Linked DNA regions of Homo sapiens: region 2 is linked to region 1. A link means that fine-mapping ties the variant in region 1 to the expression of a gene that starts in the linked region. Tissue or cell type: cerebellum. Region 1 holds a variant in brackets; the other region holds the start of a gene. All regions are shown on one strand. Distances are between the middles of the regions.

Region 1 (8,113 bases):
GTTTCTCAAACCTTTTCCAAAGGAACTATATAGGTTAAAAGTTATTCTCATAATTTTGTACTTTAGATTGTCCCATGAGAGTGCAAGACAACAGATACATTACTTATAGCTGATTAAGATATGCATTTGACCTAGATCTCTTACCTCAGATAAAACTGGATTTTGAACACATTCCCAGTAAGTTATCTGTATCATCCGGGCTTTCTTAGTCTTCTTCAATATTATCTCTCTAAAAATGCAAAATTTAACAAGGAAGTCTCTGGAGGTAGAATTGCTAATAAAACAGTCTGAACTTTCAAAAATGCAGAAAATCTGGTAAGTTTAACTGAAAATTGACATTAGTAATATTCATCTTGGGAGTCAAATGAGACTATTAATGAGCCAGTATCAAACATAAATAATACCAGTTGAAAATTTTCCACATATAAAACATAAAATTACCATGTATATATAAAAGATTATTAATTTTTCAGGACATCAGTCTGCTTTTGTTTCCCTTCAGTTAAAATATGGGGCATAGCAGCAACCAGTGGGAACTTTTAAATTGAACTAAATGTATTGCTAAACACCGAATCAAATTCCAAGAAAAGGATGATTTTCTTTCCCCACAACTTGTTTTCAATAGAAGGGACACCTGTTTTTTTTTAATGGTTTAAGTTCAGGCTGTTCTTAGAGATGATCAAGATGTTCTATGGGCCAAAGTATAATAATCATTCAGAATACGATTTAATTAATGAATGTGATGTGTAACTATATAATAGGCAAAGCAGTAACCTTTAATTTCTAATAAGGAAAGCATATGAAAAAGTAGATTCACCATTCCTACAAAATTATGAGAAAGAACTCTTTATTCATCATGGTGAATTATGTTTATACCTTTAAAATTATTTTTGCTCATTCTGTACTAATTTATTTAATTTTGTATTTTCAACAATGCCTGGCATAGGAGTTTAATAAACAAATTGAATGGAAAAGAAATGTTCTTTAACACAATTATGGAAAAGACACCACTCTATTTATTATTGAAATACATCCAATACTAGGTGATTCTGTTTCTTTATTATGGCTAGAGATGGTGGCATCACTTCTTCAAAGCCATTTGACAGGTGCTTTTCAAGGTTTCTTGTCCATGTTTCTGATAGGTTTCATAGCAGAGTAATAAGAATGTTGTCCAGCTTGCTTCACATGTATTTCTCTATGTGAACTGCCACCACTACCTATATTTGCTGGGACATTTAAATAAGCAAAATTAAAATCAATTCATGGTTACTAAATATTCATACAAGCATCAACATGTCTAATGTATCAAATATATGCAGAATGATTGGCAAGAGGTCAAGCACAGTTAATCTAAATGCCTGGTAAACAAGAATATTTAAATCACGCATTATAGTACTCATGGATTAAAAAAAGTCTGAATGTCAGCCACTTCCAAAAGTCATCAGCCTAAAAATCTCCAGGGCTTATTTTGGTGCATCTGATACTGAATATGACCCAACTATTCTTAGATATTGCTTCAGAAAGCAGCTGAGGCAACAGTAGCACAATTTTATACTTAGATTTGACAAACGTCCATGATTCATAATACAGTTTATGGAGCTCTGATTACACTGAGGCATTCCAGCTAGCCACCCAGACTCTGTAGGTCACTCAGTTCTAATGGGAGGGGCCAGTGGCAACTAAGACATCTATATTCCATTGGCCCATAATTTTGCTAGATAACTAAATTTTGGTGAACAAGTAGAGGAACTTGAGTGTTATAAAAAGAAAAAAGCAAAGGTAACAACCTAACTTACAATTAATTTTGGCCCCCCTGTTTGATAATTAGAAGATTTTCAGGTGAACAGCCTGTGATTTCAGTGCCATTATATGAAATCTTAGATGGTAAAACAGAGTTACGTTCCTACAGTCTAGTGTTTTTGCTTCTCCTCCTTCCATTAACTATCAAACTATGGTAGCAGACCTGAACTATTTACTCTACTCTCTTATCAGAAACTGAAATGAAGTCCTTTGAACAAATTTAGAAAAAATTATTTAACACTTAATAGTTCTCATCCATATAATTACCAAAGCTGAATCCACATCATTCATTAATTTACTATGTGCCTAGATTAAGAGAATCCAAGTATATTATCTGGAACAGGATTGAGACAAGTAAAAAAAATAAATGTATGTTCACCTTCCCATCCTGATCTACCTTGTCCAATGAAGGCTTCCATAAACCCATCTCTTTTTCCAAAGAGAGCAAGACTATTGAGATGAAAGTGAATCATAAAAGAGCAACCAGAGAATCATAAAAAAGAGCAGTAGAGAATAAAATGGGAGGAGTTATTTATGGCCACTTATACATTATTAAAATTGTAAAAGCAAAAATTCATTTTACTTGGAATCCTGATCTGAAGTAATGATAGCATGTAGTTTTTCTAAAAACTCATATGTGAACCTTGAAGATTTTCAAAAAAGATAACAAAAATGAGAAATACTCTTTAGCAATTCAAATATCAGCAGGCATCAGTTTTTGTCTCTGGCCTATTTGCATCTCTTTCTTATACTGGAAGGAAGCCGTGCTGTGACTCATTACTACTCTTTTCTACCTTTTCACTGCATGTCCAAAGCAGGTGACCCTGCTCTTTCCCTTTCCCAGTGAAATTCAGTTAATCATAAGGGGAACGAGGCAAGCAAGTTAAACACAAAAACAAAACTTACCTGCAGTTTCCTTTCCATACCTCCTGATCCCCTCCTCCTATGCTCACCCTACCACTGTGGCTTCACCTCCCTCCCTGCTGGAACTTTCACCACAAATGTCACCAACAGAAGAAGGTTGAGGCAGGCTGAAGGAGAGGATATATTCCTAGAATCTAAAGGTGAAACTATGGATGCATTTTATTCATGGAAACATTGTTATCCACTTCCGTTGGATTCTATTATGTTTACTATGCCTCAGGTGGTTGAAGAGTTAAAGGGATTTTGATGGGCTGGCCTGATGTTTGGACATTAAAAAGTGTGCTATGAGGAACACTAGTTCTACAAGGCCACCAAACAAAGCAAAACCAAATAGTGATGTGTGATCAAATAGAGTTTGGAAAACACTTCATTCTGCTTCTCTCCCCTTTAATATTTACAATGCATATTAGCATATTAAAGGTTCTGAGAAATCATGGTTTTTTTTTGTTTTTTTAAAAAAAGGAACATTGGCACTGCTCTCAAAGACTCTATGTAAACAAATAACTTTTATCCCCGGCGAAATCCCTCAACACGTCAGGAAACATAATCTGTAGCAGAAGTCCACACACATTTTCTGTAAAGGGCTGGAGAGTACATATTTTAGGCTTTGTGGTAGGGTTGCCAGATAAAATATAGGACACCTAGTTAAATTTGAATTTCAGATAAATAATGAATAATTTTTAGTAAAAGTGTGTCCTAAATATGTCCTCAGAGGTATTTGTTGCATTGCCCTGTGTTTTTATTTGCTAAATCTGGCAACTCAACTTTCTAGACTAGACAGTCACCTTGGCAACTACTCAACCCAACTGTTGAAGGGTCAAAGCAGCCGTAAGCAAGGCATAAAATGAGCAGGAGTGGCTCTGTTCCCTGTTATTTATGAGCACGGGAACTTGAATTTCATAGCATTTTTATGTGTCAGGAATTACTATTTTTCTTTTGATTTTTTTTTTAACCATGAAATCCTAGCAGTTTGGGAGGCCGAGGAGGGTGGACTGCCTGAGCTCAGGAGTTCA[G/A]GACCAGCCTGGGCAACACGGTGAAACCCCATCTCTACTAAAATACAAAAAATTAGCCAGGCGTGGCACCGTGCGTTGTAGTCCCAGCTACTCAGGAGGCTGAGTCAGGAGAATCGCTTGAACCCAGGAGGTGGAAGTTGCAGTGAGCCGAGATCACACCACTGCACTCCAGCCTGGGTGACAGAGTGAGACTCCGTCTCCAAAAAAGAAAAAAAGTAAAAACTATTTTTAACTTGTGAACTATACAAAAACAGGCAACAGGCTGAATTTGGACCATGGGCTACAGTTTCCTGTAGTATAAATGCTTTCTGAATTAACAGGGTTTAATCAAGTGACTTCTTGTAATACAACTGATTGAGAATTCTTAGTATGCAAGTATCTATATCTGTCTCAGGACTGACTGACTCATCCTCTGACTACTGAAGAACTGAGCTTTGAACTCTAATGAGCCTGACGTGTTTCCAACTCACCTATTTAAGCATAAATCAGAACTCAGTGGATCTGATTGTAGCAGGCTGGGGAGGGGGCAGCGACTTAGCAGACCACATGTTCCCTTCACTTATCATAAAGAACTGCATACCAGTGTAATTGGCAGTGTAGGACTGAATGTTGACCTATACCAACATTTTAACTATTTAACCGTTTTTTAAAACTTTAATTGAAGAAAGTCAAGCAAAAAAAAATCAATTTTAAGAAGCAAAGAGTTAAAACTTACGTAAAACAGGGACAACTCTTCCTCTTTTAACTTTTAAATTATATCTGCGCCCAGAGGCTTGGGCAGGAAGGTGATTGAGAGTAACTTCTCCCACTGTTGGTTTCACATCAAACCATTCTATAAAATATGAACACAAAAGTTATTTCTTAAAAAGCCATAATGGCCATTGTCAAAATAAGATGCCATAATTTAAAAATTAAGTAAATTATTTAAATTTCTGTTTATCATATTCCTGAGTAGTGTGAATACCTAGGTTAATAGTCCCTCCCCACATTGCTCACAATATATTTAATACACAAAATAGTTACTTTAAAGGTAATATATTTATGTTCCTGTTAGTCTTTGGTAAGTTTTTATTCAATTATAATGTATATACAAAAAGGTAAACAAACAGTAAGTATAATTCACTCCAATGAATGTGTGAGTGAATACACTTAGGGTACCATCATCCAGATCAAGAAATGATGTGTTACCAGTACCCCAAAGCCCCCTCATGTCTTTCCAAGACAGTATTCTAAAAGGAAAATGCTATCCTGACTTCTATCATTATAGGTTAGTTTTATGTATTTTTATATTTGATAAAATCATACAGTATCTTTCATTTTGCACATATTTGTGAATTAAAATTATTTCCATGTTTCCCATATTTCTTTTTAACTAATCCTGTAAACTGAAATACTTGAGCAATTTCCTTGTGCTTCTAAAGATCACTTCCTCCTCTGCAACTCATCCTTCACTGAGGCTTGAAGAAGTTGCTAAGTTAATTCCTACTCACCAGTCATGCTCTGTCAACACTAAACACAACTCTGGCCAGTAACACTGCCAGAACTATAGTTATCACAATTAATTACTTTGGCCACAAATGAGAAATGTTTAAAATCAGCAGTCTCAGGAATCAAGACTGGAAAAAGAGCACTGCTCAAGAATTGGAAGGGTTTAGATGATCTGTAGTTAAAGAAAAAATGTGTTCAAAAGACAACAGAGATACAGGTTAGTTTTCTACAAAGATAGACTTTTAAACAGAAAAGTCAATGATGCCTGATTTGTGGTGTTAAAATATAACTGGACAGAACTGAAATGCTAGACAACGAACTGAAAGGAGGTGAAGGGGTGGCAGCGAGGGATCAGTGTCATAGTGTTCTAAGGTCCTTGCAGTTTCAGGAAGAGAGTAAAGATTAATTTTAGACTAAGATAAATATGCATGCTAAAATGTATAGATTAGCACTAAAAAGAGTAGAGATTTAAAATGTTCAAAATTAGTGGGAAAAAAAATCTTTGGAAAAAAACTTAGTCCAAAAGAAGAAAAGATAGGTAAGATGAAAAGAAGAAACAGAAAAAGAGAAAAAAAAAACTCAAAATAGTATGTTAGATATGAATACATATAACAACGGGCAGTATTAATAAATTCATAACAATAAATCACTGTAAATGAAATAGAAACAATACTTCATAGAAGAACAAATTTTAGGACTTTACAAAGTATCAACACTAATTATAAAGCAATAATAATTAAGATGCTGAAGTGACACACATGTAGACAAACTGGAATAGAAGGTTCAGAAACAGACCCATACATACATGCAAACTGAAACATGAGAGGGCATTACAAATAAGTGGGAAAAGAACAGACTACTCAAAACATGCAGCTGAGGCAATTGGTTCTTCATATGGATTGCAGATGAAGTAACAGTGTAGCAGGACAAGCCGCAGACAAAACCCCTCAGACACCAAGTTAAAGAAGGAAGCAGTTTATTCATCCGGGAACTTCAGCAAGACCCCTGTCTCAAGAGCTGAGCTCTCTGAGTGAGCAATTCCTGTCCCTTTTAAGGGCTCACAACTCTAAGGGGGTGCACGTGAGAGGGTCCTGATTGATTGAGCAAGCAGCGGGTACGTGACTGGGGGCTGCGTGCACCGGTAATTAGAATGGAACAGAACAGGACAGGGATCTTCACAGTGCTTTTCTTTACAATGTCTATAATCTATAGATAACACAACCGATTAGGTCAGGTGTCGATCTTTAACTACCAGGCCCAGGTCGCGGCACTGGGCTGTCTGCCTGTGGATTTCATTTCTGCCTTTTAGTTTTTACTTCTTCTTTCTTTGGAGGCAAAATTGGGCATAAGACGATAGGGGGGTGGTCTCCTCCCTTAACAGATTACAGGTTTTCACTTTAATCAATTTAAACTTTAAAAGGTTTCACTTTAATCAATTTAAATATAGGAGGATATATTTATAATCTCATTATGGGAACAGTGTTAACTATGAAGCTTGTATTTGATTTTCATTCCTGCCATAACAAATTACCACAAATATCATGACTTAAAACAGCCATTTTTATCTCATGGTACAGAAGTCTGTGTCCTCTATTTAGAGTCTCACGAGGCTGAAAGCAAGGTATTGGCAGGGCTGCATTCCTTTCTGGAAGTTCTGGGGATGAATCTTCTCCCAGGCTCACTCAGCTCTTTGGCAGAATGCAGTTTCTTATGTTTGCAGGACTCAGGCCCCTGTTTATTGCCTGGCTGTCAGCCCAAGGTAATTCTTTGCTCCTGGAAGCTGCACCACATACCTTCTCATGCTTTCCATGTTGTCCCTTGTAGCAATAGCAGGTTGAGACCCTATCACACTCCAGATCTCTTACTTCTCCTTCTCCTACATGTGTCTTGATTCCAGCTGAAGAAAGATCTCTGCTTCTAAGGGTTTGTGTGATTAGATCAGGTCTGCCTGAATAAGCCAGCAAACACACCCTATCTTGGGGTCCATAACTTTACATCTGCAAAGTCTCTTTGCAGATGTAAAGTATCATATTCACAGGTTTCAGGGATTAGGACATGGATAGCAGGGGGGCTCATTCTGCCTACTACAGAGTTTCATAAAATCAACTAAACTTAAAAATATATATGAATGAAGTAAAAAATAATATTTAAATAGTATGTATAGGTAAATGAAATAAAGAATAATATATAAATAGTATGTATAGATTTTTTTTTTTTTTTTTGAGACAGAGTCTCACTTTATCACCCAGGCTGGAGTGCAGTGGCACAATCTCGGCTCACTGCAACCTAAGCCTCCTGGGTTCAAGCCATTCTCCTGCTTCAGCCTCCCCAGTAGCTGGGATTACAGGCACACGCCACCATGCCCAGCTAATTTTTGTGTTTTTAGTAGAGACGGGATTTCACCATGTTGGTCAGGCTGGTCTCAAACTTTTGACCTCGTGATCCGCCTGCCTTGGCCTCCCAAAGTGCTGGGATTACAGGCGTGAGCCACCGCACCCGGCCTAGATTTCTAAGTTAAGGAAATTATAAACAAAGGCAGCAGGATGATAGTTACTCTTGGAAGGGAATGTGGAGAATGCAGTCCGAGGACACAAAGGGGAAGGTAAAGGCATTAGTAATGTTCTATTTCTTAACCTGTGTAGGGATATACAAATGTGTTTTCATCGTTAGTCATCTTCTTTAAATTGTACATATACATTATATACGTGCATGTGTGATAAATATCACAGCAAAATTTTAATGTTTAAAAACATGCAAAATGTTTCAAGATAAAACTCTTCTCATTAATAACCTGAATCACGTCTTTATTCATGAATTTATGAGTAAAGCCAGAGATGAGAAAAATCAAGGAAGAGAAAACAAAATATAAGAGATGGAAGAATGGACAA
Region 2 (8,113 bases), 120 kb before region 1:
TCGCCCAGAGTGGAGTGCAGTGGCACAATCTCGGCTCCCTGCAACCTCCACCTCCCGGGTTCAAATGATTCTCCTGCATCAGCTTCCCGAGTAGCTGGGACTACAGGAGCTCACCACCACGCCCAGCTAATTTTTTTGTATTTTTAGTAGAGACGGGGTTTCACCATGTTGGCCAGGATGGTCTCAATCTCTTGACCTCGTGATCAGCCCACCTTGGCCTCCCAAATTGCTGGGATTACAGGTGTGAGCCACCACATCCAGCCAATTTTTTTTTTCAAAGACAACGCAAATATGACAAAAACAAAATTTATTAACTATAGATATTTATTGCATTATTGTATGTACTTTCCTGTTTAAATATTTTACAATTTAAAAACAATTTTAAGAATTCTCTCAATATTGATCCTCTGGGCACAGTGGCTCATGCCTGTAATCCCAACACTTTCAGAGGCTGAGGCGGGCAGATTGCTTGAGGTCAGGATTTCGAGACCAGCCTGGCCAGCATAGTGAAACCCTGTCTCTACTAAAAATACAAAAAATTAGCTGGACGTGGTGGCACATGCCTGTAATCCTAGCTACTCAGGAGGCTAAGACAGGAGAATCACTTGAACCCTGGAGGCAGAGGTTGTGATGAGCCAAGAACATGCCACTACACTCTAGCCTGGGCAACAGAGTGACACTCTGTCTCAAAATAATAATAATAATAATAAATAAAGAATTCTATCAATATTGATCTAGAGAAAAAATATCAAATTTTCTGCAATTATTAAAAAAATAAAAGAATTCTATCAATATTGATCTAGAGAAAAAATCTCAATTTTCTGCAAAAATTATTGGTTAATTTAAGCCATTTTTATACCTCAAGAAGACCAAAGAGTAATAACCTCTAATATATTTCTTAATAGAAATAATAATATTTTGATATATTTAAATATATCTACCTTAATCATCAATATTGTGGCAATAGATTATATATCTATTTAAAACTATTTCAATTTTTAAGTGTTTTTACATAAAGTACATTTTTAAGTATTTAGTTCACTATTTACTGCACATTAGTTTAAGTTTTTTTTTCTGTTATACTTGTTTCTGCTCTCTTACCATTTTTACATTAAAAAAAAGTGTGAGAGGGCTTTTCAATTAGGTGAATCTAAAGTCTTTTTGGCTAAATTTTTCTAAAATTTTAGTTTAAGAAGTTTTTTTCTTGTTGATTTCTCATCCAGAATACATATTAAAAGGGCATTTGCCACATTAAATTGCATTGAACTTCCTTTTCAAAGCCATTGTACTCATAGAACATGTCTATCTATCCTTGAAGATGAATTTGACTGGAGTCATTTGGCTTCCCTAATCGCTCTGCTTTTAAATTTAATCATGAAGAACTCCGGGTACTCAGTGCTAAGAACTAATGATTGCCCTGAAAATGTCAGTCAGCCTAAGTGACTGACAATTTTTTCTTTGTGAGGTGAGTATATGACATTAAATACTGGTTGAATAAAAGAATAAAAAATCAGAGTAAAGAGATCTTTGTTTTATAAATTAGGTATATTGTTCCTCTAGATCTAATCTAACTATAGTTGTGATTATTTAAATCTGTTCAAAAGGAATGAACTAAATTCTGGTAAAGGAATAAGAGTCCTGAACTGGGAGACCGGGATCACTCTATCAAAATCTGCTGCTAATATGACTGGAGATTTAAACACCTTCATCTTTAAATTATGAGTGCACAACTAGATAATTTCAGTTGTCTCATTCAATTTTATGTTTCTTTCTTTTTCCTTTTTCTTTTTTTTCTTTTTTTTTTTTGAGACGGAGTCTCACTCTTGTCACCCAGGCTAAAGTGCAGTGGCGCAATCTCCGCCTTCTGGGTTCACGCCATTCTCCTGCCTCAGCCTGCCGAGGACCTGGAAGTACAGGTGCCCGCCACCACGCCCAGCTCATCTTGTATTTTAGTAGGAACGGGGTTTCACCACCACGCTGCCGTCAAACTCCTGACTTCAGGTGATCCGCCCACCTCGGCCTTCCAAAGTGCTGGGATTACGGGAGTGAAACACCGCGCCCGGCCGGTTTTTTGTTTCTTAACTGGAGAGCTGGAGCCATTATGAGCAAAATAAACATAAAAGATTTTTTCCGTCCAACCGATGGACTAAGCTAGACGTTGTATCTTCAGCATTTTCTCTTCATGTACACCATTGACTATTCAGCACTATACCTAGCAAATATCAGTCATAAATGAAAACTATAGTCTGTTTTCACAGAAATGTTTCTTGTGATTTTCCCTCTTCGCTATTCTTATTTTCATTGTCTTAACTCAGGTCATCAGCATCTTTTCCCATGAACTACTGAATTTTTCTCCTAACAGACCATGTTCTTCATCTTCCTGCATCCCATGTATCTCCAATGTTTCCAAGGTGTCTTTCTTGATGAAAAAGCACTGATTTTATAAACTTCAATCTCTTCCTTTGGTTTAGAGGTTAAAGCCTAACCCATATATAGAATTCTGCATCTTTCCCAATCAAGTTTTCTTATTTTTCTAGTACAGTCTTTTGCCAATTTCCATCTTCCTTCTTATCTTTGGATTCACATCCCCAACTCCGGAGAAGGCAAAAACATCAAATTTATTTACATCAATCGTTTATTTTTTCCCACTTTATGCTTTTGGCAATGCTGCTCCTGCTGCATAGTATACACTTTCCCCTTTTTATCAGGTGAAATTCTACCTATTTATAAGTCCCTGCTCAAATACTAATCATATTGAAAGCTTCTCTGAATACCTTGGAAGAAAAAGTTCTGCCTCCCTCATCTGAAATCATCTCATAGCACTTTTATGTAACCCTATTTTAGTACTTAACACATTGAGTTATATTTAGTTATTGCCCTTATACTTTCTCTGGTAGATTATGTGCTAATTTCTTTCTTTCTTTATCCATCTATCCATCAAGAATTAATTGAAGACCTGCTATTCATCAGATACTTTGTTAGAATATAGGGGACGGAGTTGTAAGAACTGATTTTAGCTTTAACAAGTTTATTCTTTATATGGAAATCCAACATTTAAGTTAATTTTAATTTACAATATAGAATATTGAGTGCTGTGGTAGGTACTCGTCTCTGCAGAGAATATTTTGGAAAAAAGGAGCATTAAAATCTACTGCATAGGAAGGTAAGAATTAGGCCCAGGGACTTTCTCTGGTTGAGGTCGACCATTCATTTATTAACTATTTAGAGTGGAGTATAATTAATTCTCGATAGATGTCATTAAATACACTTTGTTTCGAGTACGTCGAGGCTTATTCTCTCTAGTGTGTTGGATAAAGGCCACAGGTAGTGAAGATATTTCAGAGATGTGAAGAATCCAGTAGGAATGACAACATCCAGCACTTCCATTCAACCAGATCCCACAGGGAAAATGTCAGTTTTGTGAAGGCAGATACATTAACCACATACAACTCGATTAATATAAACAAATAATCTTATCCATTGAGCTCTCCCACAGACCTTCTTGGGCCCAATCAGACAATAATGAAGTGCAGGCGAGACAGCATTCTGCACTCACATTCCAGGCACTGGTTCAAGTCCCTCCTCCAGGTCCCTCAAGAAAGAGACAGGATGACTGACTTACTGTATATTTGACTCATTTTCCTAGAAAGTGCAGACTCGCTATAAAATGTGTTAGGTGGTGAGAACGCTGATGGTTCACCGTTTTCCTCCACTTTCAGCCTCAGTGCAAACCCTCTGCCCAAAGCCTCGCTCCAGTACGGAGGAGCTGCGCCTTCAACACACTTTCTCTGTTGCCAGGTAACCACTTCTCCCTCAGCCTAGTCTCCAAGGGTCACGAGCCACTTCCGCCTCCCCCTCTCGGGCGCTCCAATCAGCGACCTGTGTAGCTGTCACGTGGGCCTCTGGGGCAGACCCTGGAGATCGGGCTCGCGGCGCCTTCCATCGTGGCTCCGCGCTGGGGCTTGCGGAGCACGCTTCCCGCCCCTCGGAGCCCGCGGGCCCGGCCGCCCCGCCCCCGGGCGCCCTGAGCGAGCAGGCGGGGAGGGCGGGGAGGGTCCGCGCGTTGGTGGTGCTCGCCTCGCAGCTGCGCCCGCCGGCTTCAGCACCTTCCGCTGTCCGCCGCTGCAGCCGCCTCCTCCTCCAGGTAAGAAGCCGGTGGGGCCGCAGAGATACCAAGGCAAGCTCAGGATTGATGTGGGTGATGCTGGAACTGTCGCGGCGTCATGCGAGAGGGGCTCTGACCTCCCTGTGATCGCGGACCAGGGTAATGTACGTCCTGCAGGGCTTTGCACACCATGGTGCCTGATGAGATAATCAACTGAGTTTTAGAGCCACACACCTGATTCTTACAAGGCACAGCAAGCAGCGAATATTTATGTATCTAAACTACCATTGCAGTGTAAACTGTGGACATTTCGAGGGACATTGTTTTATTTTTATGGCTATTAAGTATATGTCTAGAGCCTAGGTTGCTGTTCTCATCCCTCCGCCGGCCAGACACTTCTGTATAGATCATTTACCCCTTTGAAGATGGACTTATTAGTAGGGTTGTACTAAGAAAGGTTTGAGTAAAAAGGAAATGCGTTCCAGAAAAAAGACGGTATTGGATATAAGGCAGGTATACTATTTATTAAGTAGATCGTAAAATAGAATCTTTGCTGTCCTCCCCTCTCCAAAATCAGACTTGTTTTGCTTGCAAAGATTGAAAGGAACAAACAATTTAAGGAGACTTTTTAAATATATTAATTAAAAGCAATTGATTCGAATGAAAAGTAATGAAAAGTCCGACCATGCATCAAAAATAAATTATTTTGCATATTAATATATACATATATACTATATATATTTAACAAGGGTTTGAAGAGAGATACTACATTTCTGAATCTTTCATAAATACCCTTTAGAGAAAACTATCAAAAAAACACAAGTTCGTTGTAAAAGGATACGAAACGGCCAAAGCCCAACAATGTGAGATTATAGTTGCCGTTCTTAGCACTCTAATAACATTTCTGCGTTGTAAAAATTAGAAAATAAATGACAATGAATTTATGAGAATTTATAAATTTGAACTCCACAAGAGTTTAAGCATTAATTTATTTGTAGATTTATGCCTTATCATTACCCTGCTTGCCAGGAGCTGATGCTGGGCGGGTGGTGAAACAAACTCTGTGGAGAAAGCACTCTTACATCCTTTTGAGATTCTGCCTCACTGGCCTAAGTGTTCAAGAAAATGGATATAGTTATATCTAACTGTTTTGAAGGCAGACGTCTGAGATAGGTGGTCTGAGAACCTTTCCCCTCCTATCATCTAAAATTAAATATAGTTATTAAGTGCTTTTGAAAAGTTGTCAATTCGTTAATATTTTGGGAAACATCCTTTACTGGATTGTTTGGAGATTAATGTTACAAATGGTAGCTTTAGAGTTCCTGGGAAGTTTTAAAGCAATGACTTATTTCAAAGGGCATATACGGAAAGTAAAGCTCTTGAGTTCTGCAAACGTAATTATGTAAAAATAACTAGTTGAATGTTATTGTTTACATTGTTCTGACTTTCTCTTGTGTTGATATTAATAGAACTGCTTAAAAAACTGTGGACATCTGAAGAAGACGTTAAATATGCTTACTTGAAAGTTTTAACATTCTTTATTCTTCTTATTTCTAATGATAAATAGTGGTGTTCTAAATATTTTTAAGTTACCCATTAGTCACATAAATAATTCCATAGATTAGAAAGCCATAAATTAATTTAGGCCAGAAAAACAATGCTCCCAGTAGAGGGGAGACTAGGGCTAGATTGCTTTTGTTGTTGCTGTTTTCTACAGACTCTATCTTGTATCCTTTAGTCTGGGAAAGGAGGGACAGGGCCAGTGGCAGTTTTTTAATTACTTGGAGAAGTTTAAGAACAGGTTTCTGTTTGTTTGTTTTATGGTTTTACCCTGATGGATACTAGAAGTCCAACATGAATGATTAGGTTGTCACTATTAATGAAATGTGTAAATTCTCCAGAGTACCTGATTTTGTTGCCTAAATACTTTAATGACGACTAAAATGTAATTCTGACAGTTTTGAAGGATTCACATTTTCATCCTATATTCCAGAATTTCTTTGAAATCTAACATATGCAAGAAAGGTAACGCTTTATCAGATTACTGAATTGTAATACTGAATACTTAAGAGTTTACCCAGCTATTCATGATAATTATGTATATGGAAGCATCATTGCTACTTTTGACCACTGCTGAATTATCTCATTTTACATTTTGTATACCTCTTCCATTGAACAGATGGAAATATTAAAGTGAAGTCATGTATCTTCCAGTACGTCTTCAGGAACAGAGATTTCATCGAAATTATATTAATTTATAGAAATCATATGAGGATAGGCTGCGTGCGGTGGCTCATACCTGTAATCCCGGCACTTTGGGAGGCTGAGGCAGGCGGATCACCTGAGGTGAGGAGTTTGAGACCAGTCTGGCCAACATGGTGAAACCCCATGTGTACTAATAATACAAAAATTAGCTGGGCGTGGTGGTGCACGTCTGTAATCCCAGCTACTTGGGAGGCTGAGGCATGAGAATCTCTTGAACCCAGGAGGCCCGGAGGTTGCAGTGAGCCAAGATTGCGCCACTGCATGCCAGCCTGGGCGACAGAGCAAGACAACGTCAAAAAAATTAAAGAAAAGAAAAAGAAAAAAAGGAGGATATTGGAAGGGATTTTTTATTAATTCATGCTCCTTTTCTTTTGTATCAGAAACATATGAAACTTAAGATTTGGTTGGTACTTTTTGATACCCAAGACTGTGCTTTATCCTGTTAAAATAGTATCGTGATTATTCTTTCATTGTTGATAAAACTATTCCTTGAAATTTGTGAGCAAGAAATTAGATACGGATACCTGAAGAGAATTTTAGAAATTCTCCCAAAGAATCTACTCTATAAGGAAACAAAACCTAGAGAAAAACATTTTTCTTATTTGAGTTTACTTAAAATGTTCACGAAGGACTTGCAACTTTGGTAATAAAAATTGGTAGAAATAATATAAAATGATCAGCTTTGTATAGTAAAAGAAAAATTCCCATCACGATTAATTAGAAAGATTTGAAAAGTTTCCATGCTTAAAGCATGGGCTGTCACATTAGAAGGCAGAGTTCAGGTTGTTTTCATCTGATTTCAGTGACTAGACAGGTATAATTTCAGTGACTAGTCAAACATTTCAAATAGGCTAGATTTTGTAAGAAAAAAAAAGAACTTGATATTGGAGCCACAGCTGGCACCTGCCTTCCAGATGTCACATTATCAGCTACTTGAGGAAAATAATTTATATATATATATTGATAAAAGTCTTACTTTTTATTATGTTAAATGTACTTACAAAGTATTGTTCAGTAAGCTGTCTTATAAAATTCTGTAATTCTACATTCTAATTTAAAAAATGTACTGTAGAAATAGACAGTAATATAAATCTATAATTAAGATAATACAGGAGGTAATTTAACAATGTTATTTGCTATGATAAGGATGATTGATAATTGTCATGTTCGGATAAATTGTAGCAAAAGTGTAAGAAATAAATTTCCATGTGTCAGTGAAGATGTTATAACAGTCAATACTTGTTTTGTACATTCAAATGTTCTGAGATGGAGAACTCAAGATTGAGGTCCTTAAACAATTTTTCTTATGCTTAGGTTTATTGTTTTCTTCTTCCAGATTCTTCCCATTTTTTTTAGTTGTAAGCATGTACCAGTGTCCCAGGCAGACTCATTTACAATGATGTGTAGTAAGTTCAATTTCATATCACGCACACAGAAAACTTACTTTCAAATCGGAAAGTAGAAAATAATTTTTATTACACAAAGCACTCGTGTTTAACATGCTATTAAAAAAACCCTTCATTACAATACAAACAGCTCCACATGGAGTCTCAAAAAAATGAATAGTTGGTTAATAAGAAATAGCTAACATTTAATTAAGTTTGATTCTTTAAGATAAAACATTATGGATGACTTTTAATGAAAAGAGTTATGCAACATTTTATTTTTAAGGTAAACAGGTTTGAAGGGGTCATTTTGGAATTTATGATAGAAGGATCCTTAAGACCAGTTACTCTAACACCG

The links. PIP is the estimated chance that this variant, and not a neighbour inherited with it, causes the effect.
Region 2: it holds the start of WDR17, and the variant in region 1 is fine-mapped to the expression of WDR17 in cerebellum (GTEx, PIP 0.98).

The regions. Positions count from the first base shown.
Region 1 is chr4:176,183,667-176,191,779 of GRCh38, forward strand. It overlaps SPATA4 (spermatogenesis associated 4), which reads right to left. Exons shown (of 6, transcript NM_144644.4): 5 at 4,453-4,569; 6 at 913-1,226. The coding sequence ends at 1,114. Among named protein-coding and RNA genes, the nearest start is that of SPATA4, 7.9 kb to the right of the region's middle. The variant G/A (reference allele first, on the strand shown) is at 3,738.
Region 2 is chr4:176,061,936-176,070,048 of GRCh38, forward strand. WDR17 (WD repeat domain 17) reads left to right here and starts at 3,906. Exons shown (of 29, transcript NM_181265.4): 1 at 3,906-4,144. RefSeq lists a silencer at 3,782-4,161.